Homo sapiens: one gene and its partners. The protein of the gene in region 2 purifies or fractionates together with the protein of the main gene of each other region. This does not show direct contact. Each region holds a gene or a part of one and is shown on either strand. Other genes may lie near its edges.

Evidence for each region. Proteins that work in one complex are often made in the same cells at the same time.
Region 1: the proteins of SNX9 (region 2) and BIN3 purify together in Homo sapiens (co-immunoprecipitation; one large-scale study listed by IntAct). This does not show direct contact.
Region 3: the proteins of SNX9 (region 2) and FCHSD2 purify together in Homo sapiens (co-immunoprecipitation; one large-scale study listed by IntAct). This does not show direct contact.
Region 4: the proteins of SNX9 (region 2) and FCHSD1 purify together in Homo sapiens (co-immunoprecipitation; 3 studies listed by BioGRID and IntAct, with this or other methods). This does not show direct contact.

Annotation. Positions count from the first base shown.
Region 1 is NC_000008.11:22,624,117-22,627,621, reverse strand, and holds part of BIN3 (bridging integrator 3), read left to right. Parts: intron 1-2,209; coding exon of another isoform or gene 2,210-2,321; exon of another isoform or gene 2,322-3,252; intron 3,253-3,258; coding exon 3,259-3,400; intron 3,401-3,505. UniProt on the Homo sapiens protein: Involved in cytokinesis and septation where it has a role in the localization of F-actin.
Region 2 is NC_000006.12:157,826,245-157,829,749, forward strand, and holds part of SNX9 (sorting nexin-9), read left to right. Parts: intron 1-3,505. UniProt on the Homo sapiens protein: Involved in endocytosis and intracellular vesicle trafficking, both during interphase and at the end of mitosis. Required for efficient progress through mitosis and cytokinesis. Required for normal formation of the cleavage furrow at the end of mitosis.
Region 3 is NC_000011.10:72,978,314-72,981,818, reverse strand, and holds part of FCHSD2 (F-BAR and double SH3 domains protein 2), read left to right. Parts: intron 1-3,505. UniProt on the Homo sapiens protein: Adapter protein that plays a role in endocytosis via clathrin-coated pits. Contributes to the internalization of cell surface receptors, such as integrin ITGB1 and transferrin receptor.
Region 4 is NC_000005.10:141,641,414-141,644,918, forward strand, and holds part of FCHSD1 (F-BAR and double SH3 domains protein 1), read right to left. Parts: coding exon 3,446-3,505; intron 3,278-3,445; coding exon 3,160-3,277; intron 3,026-3,159; coding exon 2,805-3,025; intron 1,676-2,804; coding exon 1,588-1,675; intron 345-1,587; coding exon 289-344; intron 151-288; coding exon 85-150; 3' UTR 1-84.

The DNA of each region.
Region 1 (3,505 bases), on a different chromosome or scaffold from region 2:
GGGTCCTGGCTTCACGCCTGGGGACAGGCTCCCCCAGTGTGGTTGGGTAGAGTCAGCAGGGCCTCTGTGGGGTCCCAGGGACATATCTGGGAGGGGCTGGCACAGGCGCCCAGCCTGTGCACGTCTCCACCTCCCCTGCCAGCAGCCTGAGCCCTGACCTGAGATCCCACACAGCACCGTGGCACATCCACTGTCCACCCCGGGGCTTTGGCAAAGTCTGTTCTGTTGCTAAGAAGTAGAAAACGGGGAGATGGGGCCTCAAAGGGTCAGTGAGTGACCAGGGCAGATGTGACAGAGTCCTGGTCCACTACTCTTCAGCCACCTTGGCACAAGCTGCGCCCTGCCCTGACTGATGTGAGTTCCCACTGAATGTAGAAAGGTGTGACACTTGTCCCTACCCCTAGGGAATCCCAATCCCAGGACCCAACCTCCCCCCACCGTGGTTGTAATTTATCAGCAATCACCTCCAGTGGCCTGAGCAGGCAGAGCCTCTTGGTGGCTAAGGGGTGCTGTCATGGGAAACGGAGGTTTTCATGGTGAAGACATGCTCTTCCCACTGGGGCAGGCGGCCTGCAGAGGCAGGTGGTCTTGGTTCCAGGGGGCTGGCAGGAGCCCATGCAGCCAGGTGGCCACCTGGAGACACCACCACGCCATCCCCCGAGGAGCTCTGTAACCCGGCCTCCCTCACCCCCGCTCGGCACTCCGCTGTAGTCAGCGCTCCTGGTGGCTCTGACTCTGGCACAGGAAATAATAAGCCCCAGCCGACAGCTGTGGGAAGGGGGCTATGAGAGTGCCTCAGGGGATGTTGGGGGGTCAGGCTGCTGGAGCAACGAGCATAGGGCTCCTCCCATCCTGCACCGTGGAAGCCACCTTGCGCACACACGGCTTCACGCTGTGATGCCCTCCTTCCTGAGGATGTGAGCTCAGGGTGGTGGGATTGGGGCCAGGGCCAGAGAGCTCTCCACCTGCTGCCTCCTGCCTGCCTCATCCTTGCCCTGTCCCAGCGCCTGCACCTACCCGGCAGCTCCCAGGCACCCACAAGGCCCAGGCACTGGGACCATCCAAGCAGCAGGTGGCTTCTAACACAAGGATCAGGGCGAGGACCAGGGTAGCTGCCGGTGGTCCCTTGGCCATTTGGGGCTGAGGGAGAGGTGGCCTGGTAGCCTCTCAGGCCCAGCTGCACCTGCTGCCTGAACACGTGCCTCTCAGCTGCCCAGGAAGGGGGCAGGGCTCCCCAGCAGCTGCAGCTCCACCACGCAGCCGCCCTGGGCAAAGCATCAAGTCTAGCTCCTCCCAGCAGTCTCACCCCAGCCCACGCCATGGGCGACTATGCATCCTGGTGGTGTCTGCTTCCCACCCTCAGTTCCGTAGTGCTGAGGGGCCCGCGTTCTCTGTGCACAGTCCTGGGAGGCCCATGGCTTCTGCCCGGCAAGTCGGTCAGATGCTGGTTTGATTACTATGTCTAAGGGCACGGGTGAGCATTCAGGGTGCTTTGGTGGCTTCACCCACTTAGCACCTTGTTAAGACAGGGAGCCCCTTATGGACACTGTTGAGGTAGAGGATTCCTGTCTTGGGGATAAGCCCTTTGTTTCATCAAAATCTACTCCCTGGGTCTGACTTAGTTTGGGGGCATTTAATGCTTTGGTAAAGTTAATATCCTCTTACTCCCTGGCAAAACTGTTCATTACTCTTACCTCAAATGTACACTTGATTTGCTGAGGCTTTTTAAAAACAGGCCGGCCACGGTGGCTTACGCCTGTAATCCCAGCACTTTGGGAGGCTGAGGCGGGTGGATTACTCAAGGTCAGGAGTTCAAGACCAGCCTGGCCAACATGGTGAAACCCCGTCTCCACTAAAAATACGAAAATTAGCTGGGCGTAGTGGCACACGTCTGTAATCCTAGCTCTTCGGGAGGCTGAGGCATGAGAATTGCTGGAACCCAGGAGGTGGAGGCTGCAGTGAGCAGAGATCATACCACTGTACTCCAGCCTGGGTGAGAGAGCAAGACTCTGTCTCAAAACCAAATTCCTGGTCATGTCCTTTGAGAGGCACATCTGGGAGTCCTGCTCTGTGTGGTAGCTGAGCTCCTGGAACCTGACAGTGAGTCTGCCAGCATCCTCTCAACTCTGAGTGCCTATGATCCCAGTCTCAGTAACTGCTTCCTGCCCTCGTCTTTCCTCCTCTCTGGGTTCCTCATAAAAATGTCCAGGAGGAACCAACTCTTCTGGTCCTGGGTCACCTCCGAATGGCCACAGAGTCATGAGCTCCCTGGGCTGCGCAGCCTGATCCTGGACACTGCAGGGCTCTGGCTTGCCTGGTAGACGCCCCCTGCCATTGCACCGAGGGCCAGCCCTCCAGCAGCAGCAGCGAGAGCCTCAGGAGAGCACTGCTCCTGGTCACTAGAGGACACATGATCCACAAAGACGAGGCCGGTGTGGACCTGCAGCGTTGCATCGTCCACTGCTGCTCTCTCTGAGGGCCACTCCTCTGAGTCTCCCACGCGGTCCCTTCTAGTCACAGTGGAGGTCCTCAGGGCATTTTCCTGAAGCAGCTGGTTGGAACTTTGGCGGTTCCAATGGCAGAGCCAGAGGATTTCTGCTGCTTTCATGTTGCCAAGGAGCCCTTGAAGGAGAAGGTGCCCTGGGGCAGGGGTGAGTTTAGATTTCAGTTCTGCCACCTGCCAGTGGCACTGTGAGGGCTGGAAAGGGTGCCAGACAGAGAATGTGGACACCTGTGTTCTCTTCTAGACCTTCTCTGCCTCATCGTGACTTTGGATGAGTCATAGGTCATCTCTCTCTGTCCTCAGTTTCCCTCCTTTTTAAAAGTGAGGTGTTGGCCAGATGACTTCAAGGCACCTTCCCCACCATCCCCTAGTCCGTTGTGTGATAAAGCTCACAGGAGGTGGGGGTCAGGGCACCCTTCATTCCTGGGCCACCCTGTGCCACCCAGCTCCCTGGACCTGGCCCACAACCCCACCTCCTCTCATCTGCCCTCACCCCATGACATTGTCCACGTTCGCACAAGCTCCAGGGGACAGGGCCTCATCTGTCTTGTTCACAGTGAACTCCCCAAGACCTAGAGCAGGGTCTGGCGCTTGGTAGGTGCTCAGGGCACATTTTTGGACAAGTGAGTGCTGGCCAGGACGCCCCTCCAAGAGCGGACCCATCTCCAGCCAGGCCACCCCTCCAAGAGCAGACCCATCTCCAGCCAGGCCACCCCTTCAAGAACGGGCCCATCTCCAGCCAGCTTGTCCCACAGGTTCGGCAGTGTCTTCCCGAGCCTCAACATGGCTGTGAAGAGGCGGGAACAGGCCTTGCAGGACTACAGGAGGCTGCAGGCCAAGGTGGAGAAGTATGAGGAAAAGGAGAAGACGGGGCCAGTGCTGGCCAAGCTCCACCAGGTACCAGGGGAGACAGGTGGGCAGGGGCTAGACAGGTGGGCCATCGTGGTCACCTGTGGTAAGTCCCTCCCCTCACCTGGGGGCACCAAGACACCAGACGTCCCC
Region 2 (3,505 bases):
TCCTAGCACTTTGGGAGGCCGAGGCGGGCGGATCACGAGGTCGGGAGATCGAGACCATCCTGGCTAACACGGTGAAACTCCATCTATACTAAAAATACAAAAAAAATTAGCTGGGCGTGGTGGCGGGCGCCTGTAGTCCCAGCTACTCGGGAGGCTGAGGCAGGAGAATAGCGTGAACCCGGGAGGCAGAACTTGCAGTGAGCCGATTTTGCGCCACTGCACTCCAGCCTGGGTGACAGAGTGAGACTCCATCTCAAGAAAAAAAAAAAAAAAAGGAAAGTTAATCAGTAACTGCACATTTTAAGGGGATTATCTATTTTCTATTTCTACTCCTTACTCAGTAGAGTGCTGCATTCAGTTTAAGTGTATACACTCACTCAGTGCAATCAAGTCTTGTTTTACAAATATTAATACAAAAGCTGCAGAGCATTTTAGTCTTGACCTTTATTGGAAGCCTCCAAAGGTTATATTTCGACCCAGCCAAAATATAACCTATTTATATTATAGGTTTTATATATATATGATATATAAATATATTATATTATATATATATATTATATTTTATATATAAATATATATTATATTTTATATATATATTATATTTTATATATAAATATATATTATAGTTTATATAATATATAAATATATATTATAGTTTATATAATATATAAAATATATTATAGTTTATATAATATATAAAATATATTATAGTTTATATAATATATACATATATATTATAGTTTATATAATATATACATATATATTATAGTTTATATAATATATACATATATATTATAGTTTATATAATATATAAACATATATTATAGTTTATATAATATATAAACATATATTATAGTTTATATAATATATACATATATATTATAGTTTATATAATATATACATATATATTATAGTTTATATAATATATAAACATATATTATAGTTTATATAATATATAAACATATATTATAGTTTATATAATATATAAACATATATTATAGTTTATATAATATATAAACATATATTATAGTTTATATAATATATAAACATATATTATAGTTTATATAATATATAAACATATATTATAGTTTATATAATATATAAACATATATTATAGTTTATATAATATATAAACATATATTATAGTTTATATAATATATAAACATATATTATAGTTTATATAATATATAAACATATATTATAGTTTATATAATATATAAACTTATAGTTTATATAATATATAAACTTATAGTTTATATAATATATAAACATATAGTTTATATAATATATAAACATATATTATATTATAGTTTATATAATATATAAATATATATTATATTATAGTTTATATATATATGAGATATATAAATATATAATACATTGTCAGTCATCCTGTTTTATTTAAAAGATCAAGTTCTGGAAAAGAAATGAAGAATTTTTTTTCAGTGTCTGTCAAAGGGGACATGAAGAAAATTGTTAGTGGAGGTTAATCCATATCTATATAATTTAGCTGTAATTTCTACGTCAAAGTTAACCTTCAGTCACTAATTTGGATCCTTTTGTGCTTACATAGTCACCTTTAGGCTAACTATAACAAGATTCTAGGAGTTCCTGATGCTTTTTTTTTTTTTTTAACTCTTCGGTTCCAATACCTAAAGTTATACACATGTGTTACACAGCTTGTCTGGTTAAATTAAGTGGGTATGGAATGTTAAAAATAATGGTAGGGAATAAATGAATTACTTAAGACTTGTTTATTCCATGCATAGATTAGTGAGAACAATTCAGAAGGCATACTTTGTAGCCCCTCCAGAGCAGAAACTTCTTTATTTGACGACTAGAATAGAAATATCTTTCTAACAGGTCTTAAGGATTAAAGTTGATTTTTATGGCTTTTAAAATGTTTGGAAAATGCTAACCATTTAACTTTGTATAACAGTAGTATTTTCTATGTGTCTTAAGTAGAGTGTGCAGTATTTGTATAGTCAAAGATAAGTTCTGTGACAGTAGAAAGATGAACAAGTCTCATTAAAGAAGGAATAGATTAGAAAGCATAAAAATGTTGCAGTTTTTCTACTGTGCCTTGTTTTTATATTGACCATCTGAAAATTAAATTATAGTTTTACTTTAATTGTCCACTTAAAACTTTGTAGCTTTGCAGTACTGCTGTTTCTTTTCTGGAATGCTGTTCTCCCTTGTCCTTCCCTAGGTACTTTGTTTTTAGATGTTAAGTTTTTATGATTATGATTATTATTATTTTTTTTTTGGAGACAGGGTCTCACTTTGTCATCCAGGCTGGAGTGCAGTGGCACGAACACAGCTCACGGCAGTCTCGACTTCCCTGGCTCAGGTGATCCTTCCACCTCAGTCTCCCAAGTAGCTGGGACTACAGGTGTGCACCACCATGCCCAGCTACTTTTTGTATTTTTTGTAGAGATGGGGTTTCACCATGTGTCCTGAACTGAGGTGATCCTTCCTCCTCAGCCCCGCAAAGTATTGGGATTACAGGTTTGAGACACTACGCCTGGCCACATATTAGGTCTTAATGCGTCTAAGCATCACTTCCCCGGGAAAGCCTTTCCTGATGTCCCCGCCCCTGTTTCAGGGTCACATTACACACCCCGACTGCCATTTTATATTTGTTTCTATAACTGATGGCTGGCTCCTTTGAATGCTGTCAGCCTCAAGAAGCTGAGACTGTTTGTGATCACTTTTGTATCTTCAATGACAAGTTTAAAAGAGCAAAAATATATTCTAGTGAGATAAGTGACTCGATTATTGAAGTAGAAAACTATTAATCCCCAGCTGTAAGCTTTTGTTCTTTTAATCATGTGTTTTAGTGTATTTGTTAAAAGTGTATACAGGTACAACACAAAATTTACATCTGCAGCTTAGGTATTGGCAATTATATTTTTTAAAACATAATCAATTTTACTAATGATTACATGAGAAATTGCCTGATGTTTTAAGGTAGTTGGAACAAGCTTCATATTTCTGAGACTTTAAAGAGTTGTCTTTAACCTACAAGTTGTCAGAATTGTCTTTAATTTCCAAATGTATTGGGTTTTTCTCTTTCTTGTTGGTGATTTCTAACTTGATTGCATTGTGATCAGGGAGCCTAATTAAAATCAATACTGTACCTGGAAATTTGTTGAGGCTAACTTTATTCCCAGCATACAGTCAGCTTTTATGTTTCACCTGTGCACAAAAAGAGTATACATATTATTGATGTGTGTGTCTATTCTGTATGCTCTATGTCCACTAGACTTACTGTGCTGTTTATATGTATATCCTTACTAATTGTGTTCCTCTATTTGATCTGTTGTATCTAACTGATCCTCTGTCTACTTGATGGTGATGCTAAAATGGTGAATTTAAAAATTTTCTCTACATTTACAATTAGTATTATTTTCTAGGTGAATTGAAGTTTTTATCATTATGAAGTGAACCTCTTTACCTCTGGTAATGCATTTTTTCTTAAAGACTATATTTCTAATGTTAATGT
Region 3 (3,505 bases), on a different chromosome or scaffold from region 2:
ATTTTCGCAGAGGCGTGGTCTCACTTTGTTGCCCAGGCTATTCTTTAACTCCTGGGCTTAAGAGATCCTCCCACCTCAGCCTCCCAAAATGCTGGGATTATAGGGGTGAGCTACTGGGCCTGGCTGGTTTTAGTATCGTATTAGGTATTACATAGTGCTTCAGACTTACAAGGACCAACAGTTTCAAAGAACACATTTACTAAAGATGATTTTTAGCACAGCTCGCACTTAAGGTTGTAATTCACTATATTCTATATATGTCTACTATTATATCAAAGCTGTATATTTTTCCCTATGAATATTTTTAAATGAACATTATATTAACTTAAGCAACAGCAAAAATAAAATCCTATTTTTTTTCTATTGGATCTACAGCTAAAAAAGATGGCCTTCAATAAACCAGAGAAAGTACATTCTTATTTGGGGGATCTGCTCTCTGCCTAAAGCAAAGAGGAAGTTAAAGGGCCTGGCCAGCTCACAGATTAATATATGTTCTCGAACTTACTTTGAAGTCTTTATGCATATATTTGATCAGCATTGGGTAGGTCATGCTTTGGAGTATTCATTTAATGAAACATTGTGGGGTACTAAACTGATTAAAAATAGAGGCAGGGGTTGGTCCCTCCTGCCCCTTAAAAATGAGAAAACATACTTTCAGTTTTCATGTACTGTACATTAACTCATTTTCTTCCTCATGCTAATTCTATAGTCTGCAGTACAGGAAAACTCCTATCAATCATGCTGTTAGCTACTTAGTAAATTTCCACCATTGAATTGTCAGTGGCCCTTAGATGCCTTTCTTGAAAATATCTGTTTTTCTGAATTAATGTTAAGGAAATATCTATTTTTCTGAATTAATGTTAAGGTGATAATGCCCTATATGGGTAGCTTAAAAGCAGGGTATTTGATTTGTTGGTTTAATCATACACATTTAAGAGCCTCTTACAGCATGCTAACTACTGAGTTAGGCTTTGGGAAGAGACAGATGAGTAAGACATACTACTTATCCTCAAAGAGCTCAATATGGTAGAAGAGAGTGAGATGTATATATATACATACACATATATATACACACACATATATACATATATATACACATACATATATATACATACATACATTATATATATATATATATATATACACACACACACATACACATACATATATACATGATTGCAAATTAGAGTGATGGAAATCACTTACTGCTGGAGGACTGTGGTTAGTAATAATAATAGCTATCTTTTTTATTGCTTAATATTGCCTTGGCATTATCCTAACCATTTAATACATGTTATCCTTTCTCATTTTCTTTGTTATCCTCGTTAAAGTTCATAGCTCATTATTTAAATAATACTCTAACTTATATTCTTATCTTTGCCCTTCTTCAAATGAAATGAAATTGTAACTCTGATGAGCCCCCATAACTGGATAATCTGTATCTAAGCAGCCAAGTACTGCTGAAGAAAAGTTTCGACGGAGCAGATTCATGATCATAAATTAATAGAGAAACCAGTGCAGCAGTTTCAACACTGCTTAGATGGCCTACTGTCTTTTCCCTAGTTAACTTTTCCTACTATTTTTAACAGTTATTTCAACTTTTCCCCCCTCTTCAAACCTCAAACTTACCCCTTCTCTTTTATGCTTAGCAAGTGGGTTTTCTTCCTAATTTACAGAGACGATAGAAACCGTTGGAAGACAGCTTCAATATTGTCCACTTCATCTGTGTTGAAGACTCTTCCAGAGTCTCAGTAGCAGTTGTTCCTGTCTAAAGGTGATCTTTTCACCTCAGCTTTGGATTATATCTCATCCCCTCCTGCCTTCTTAGGGAACAAAACAATTATTTTATGTTCTTTTCGTATTTCCTGGACATTCTGTTCTTACATTAGCAGTTATCTTGGTGATAACAACCCTCATTATGACTGTCTTTTGAGTTACATTCTTCTAATCTGGACTAGTTGCCCTCTGTGTCAGATGCAAGTATTTATCCTGAGATCTTCCTATATGTCTTTGTTGTGTTAGATCTCCAGTTTTCTTTATGATATGTCTTATTTTTTTCTTGATTTATACTGTCCTTTGGTAGAGCACATCCTCCAGTACCTTCTTGCGAAAGTGGGCATGGGAAGTAAGTTTTTTGAGATACTATGTTTATGAAAATGGCATATTATTTGCTTGTACTTGGATATAGAATTAAAGGTTGAAAACTCTTTCATTGAAACATTGGAGTCCATACCTCATTGTTTTCTTCTTTACTGTGTAAGTATTGAGAATCCAAAGCCATCCTAGTTCTTGATTATTTGTATCTGATCTAATTGTTTGTTTTTTCTTTTTTTAGAAGTTTATGGAATATTCTCAGTGTACCCTTTGATTTCTTGGATTAATTCTTCCCTTTTGTTTTCTCTTTCTGGAACTTCCCATTATTAAGATATGATATCTCCTAGCTTGCTTCTTTAAATTTCATTTCTTTCTTATTTTCCATCTTTGTCATTATGTTGTACTTTTTGGGAGACTTCTTCAACTTTACAGTTTCTTTTATTGGACTTTTAATTTTTTCATAGTAGTTTTAATGTATGAGAGTTCTGTTTTCTCCACATCCTTACCAGCATTTTTTATTGCCTGTTGTATTAGTTCGTTTTCACACTGCTTTAAAGAACTACCTGTGGCCGGGCATGGTGACTTACACCCATAATCCCAGCACCTTGGGAGGCCGAGGTGGGCAGATCACCTGAGGTCAGGAGTTTGAGACCAGCCTGCCAACATGGTGAAAATCCATCTCTACTAAAAATACAAAAAATTAGCTGTGTGTGGAGGCATGCACTTGTAGTCCCAGCTACTCAGGGAGGCTGAGGCACGAGAATCGCTTGAACCTGAGAGGTGGAGGTTGCAGTGAGCTGAGATCGCACCACTGCACTCCAGCCTGGGTGACAGAGTGAGACTTCATCTCAAAAAAAAAAAAAAAAAAAAGAAAGAGCTACCTGAGACTGGGTAATTTATGAAGAAGAAAGGGTTAATTGACTCAGTTCCGCATGGCTGGGGAGGCCTCAGGAAACTTACAATCATGGTAGAAGGCAAAGGAGAATCAAGTACCTTCTTGACATGGGGGTAGGAGAGAGGAAGCGAAGGGGGAAGTGCCACTTTTAAACCATCAGATATCGTGAGAACTCAGTCACAATCATGAGAACAGCATCAGGGAAATCGCTCCTATAATCCAGTCACCTCCCACAGGGACCCTCCCCCGATATATGGGGATTACAATTTGAGATGATGAGATTTGAGTGGGGACACAGAGCCAAACATATCACCTGTCTTTTGGATAAAAGTCATTTGACCTGGGATGACATGCTATCTAATTATAGTTTTGATTTATGTTTCTCTGATGGTCAATGATATTGAGCACCTTTTTATATGCCTGCTTGCCATTTATATGACTTTTTTTGAGAAATGTCTATTCAGATTTTTTGCTCATTTTTATTTTTTATTTTTATGTATTTATTTATTTTTCTTT
Region 4 (3,505 bases), on a different chromosome or scaffold from region 2:
GTTGCTCTGGATCATTGATGGTGTGGTCTGACAGCTTGAAGATAGGGACAGCAGCATCACTGGGGGTCAAGGCTTCCCTGGCCTTCAGGTGAGGGGATCTGGGTGGCCAGGATCCGGGGCTTTAGCCGGCGGGGGAGGTGGTGGACGCATCTGTAGGGAACACACAGTTAGTGCTCCAGAGTTCTCCCTTAAGGGTATCCCTGTCTATTCCCTCAGCCCTGCAGACAAAACAGGACTGGTTGGAATAACCCCTCTACATACAATCTCCTCCAAGGCAAGGGCCCTTACCGGCCTGAGTCGAGGTGCCATCATGTCCAGGAACCCAGGGAAGTCCAGGGCTTTGTCTGGAAATAAGAACCACAAGTCAGTCTTCAGACTTTGTTTTGTTCAATGCTGTATCTCCAGCACTTAGGACAGTGGCATTCTATAAATATTTGTTAAATTAATGGTCACCATCCTAGACCATAAAATCCATCACTCTATCCACTGTCCTCAACATTTATTGGGCAACTGCTGTATAATCAGCTCTGCTCAAGGTACAAAACTAAGGGAGATAGGATGCATAGTGCTCCCACCCCCAATGGCTGTCAAGAAACCAATAATGAAACCTCAACAAACACAATAAATGACTAAGTGCTAAGTCATGCAAAGTGAACTTGGGGTGGTGGAGATGGTGGTAACTCCAGGGAGGGAGACTCCTTGTGGACAAGGTGGAAGTACCAGAAAGTTTTAGAAAAGGCAGGCATTCCACAGCCATAAAAAAGAATGAAATCATGTCCTCTGCAGCAACATGAATGGAGTTGGATGCCATTATCCTAAGTGAACTAACTCAGAAACAGAAAACCAAATATTGCATGTTCTCACTTATAAGTGGGAGCTAAACAACGGGTACACATGGACATAGAGATGGAAATAACAGACTCCCAGGACTCCAAAGGGGGCAAAGGTAGGAGTAGAGGCAGGGGCGAGGGTTGAAAAATTACCTATCAGGTACAATGTTCACTATTTGAGTTACAGGTACACTAGAAGCCCAATCTCCACCAGTATGCAATATATCCATATGACAAACAAGCACATGTACCTCCTGAATCTAAAATAAATAATAAAATAAAACTGCTATAGACATTTAAAAAAGAAAAAAAGTGGGCATCAGAAAAAATAATGATACAAAGCTAGGTATCTGGACACTAGGAGCAAAAGGTGCATATTGGGAGGACACCGTGAGAGAAGTTAGCTAATTTTTAAAATAATAACAGTGACTGCATACTTACTGTGTGCCAGGCACAATGCTGTGTAGTCCACAGGCATCTTTTTTAACTCTCATAAGAATTCAATAAGCTAGTACCTTTTCCTTACCTCATAAAGAACATAAACTGAGGCCAAGACAGGTTCAGAATCCCACCACACACTTGGAGATGACAGAGCGGGACCTGAACCAGTCAGCCTGGCTCCAGAGCCCAGGCAAGTGCTCTCCACCAAGCAAGATGCCTGAAGGCACGGAGAGGACCAGAGCGTGACCTGGGAGTCCAAGCTTCCTCCTTCTTCCTGTCTGTTAGCCTCCCAAGGCTCCCAGTTCCTTCCACTCACCCCCAGGCAGGACAGGTGCAGGGGGCCCATCCAACACAGAGGTAGGTGCAGGTGGGGAGAAGCTGGGAGGAGAAGGGGACGGCAGCATCTGGAGGTGGGGTGGGCACAGAGTTATTCCTGGCATGTGGGGAGGTTTTACCAGCTTTTCCTCTCATCCCATCTCCAGTTCCTTCCTCATCACTTCTCAATACAGGAAGTGGCCAAATGCTTGCATTCGGTGGGGGGGTGTAGCTGACAAATATTTCAACAGCCAATATGTATTGAACGCTTATGTTTACTATGTCTCAAGTGTTCTGCTAGCACTTCACGTGTACCAATTCATTCAATCCTCACCACTACCCCATGAGGTAGGCATTTTTAATAATATGACTCCTATGTTAGAAGTGAGACCCAGGTTAAGCCAGCTGTCCAAAATCACGAAGCCAGTTATTGGCAGAGTGCTGGCTAGAACCCAGTTCTCCTGATGCCCACTCCTATTCTCTTTCTGCTGTATGTATATACATTATAACAACAGATATCTTATATTGAAACACCTTCTGCATTCCACTGCACTAAAGGCTTTGCCTCGGCGGGGCGCAGTGGCTCATGCCTATAATCCCAGCACATTGGGAGGCCAAGGCAGGTGGATCACCTGAGGTCAGGAGTTTGAGACCAGCCTGACCAAATGGAGAAACCCTGTATCTACTAAAAATAGAAAATTAGCCGGGCGTGGCAGCACGTGCCTGTAATCCCAGCTACTCGAGGGGCTGATACAGGAGAATCGTTTGAACCCGGGAGGCAGAGGTTGCGGTGAGCTGAGATCGCACCATTGCACTCCAGCCTGGGCAACAAGAGCGAAACTCTGTCTCAAAAAAAAAAAAAAGAAGAAGGCTTTACCTCGATTATCTCTAATTATGACAGTGAGCCTGCTAAAGTAGGTATTATCCCCATTTTACATGTGAAGAAACAAGCTCAGAGAGGTTAAATCATTGCCCAAGTCATACAATAGAAATTTGAACTCAGATCTATCCAGCACTAAAGTAGGACCCCCCAAACTCCTATGAAGGCTGCCTTGGTTTCCCTTTTCCCTGCCCCCCCATAGGAGATGGGAGGCCCAGGCCACTGTAGGAGGTAAAACTGGGGAGCAGAGGAGGCATTAAGATGAATATGAGGCTTTATTGGGGTGGGAGGGTCAACCCAGAGGTGCCTGGGGAGTTCAGGGAGAAGGTAAGCCTCACCTGTTCAGGGTCAGAGAGTTCAGGTGGCCCTGGGGGGCCAAGCAGCTCTTCCACCAGCAGGGAGGGGAAGACCCCAACACGGCCCCCAAATTCTCCCCTCCAGAAGCCGTCATCTACTCCATCTTGGGCCCGGGGCAGCAGACGGATGAGTGCCCCCTCAGGGAAGCTCAGCTCCTCTGCACTCTGTCCGGTGTAGCTGTACAGGGCCTGTGCCAGGAATGCTACAGAGGCCCAGGAGAGACGGTGAGAGGGAGGTGGGTAGCAGTGCCCCAGGACCATGACACCCCAGGGCTACAACCCCTAACAATTTTTCTCCATACCCAGGGTCCTCTAACCCAAAATTTCCCTTTCTTACCTGTGGGCTCTGCCCCGCAGGGATTGTCACTGTCTTGGCTGCTCTCTGGGAGGGAGAGGTCCGGGAAGTTGAGATATCGCTCAGGGACAAAGCCTACCTCGCCGTGCTGGTTCCGAGCCTGCTCACCCAGCAATGTGAACAGATATTAGACTTACCTCAGCAGTCCATGACCCTGGCTCTCTTCTACTCAGGCTTCTAGCTTTGCCTAGAAGGGTCTATGGAGGCCACAGAGAAGTCCCTCCTACTGCCCCCAACCCAAGGTCAGAGCCCGGGGTCCCATACCCACCTTGACCCATTCGTCAGCATCTCCCTCCTCTATGACCTCCAGCCACTCACCCTCCGTGAT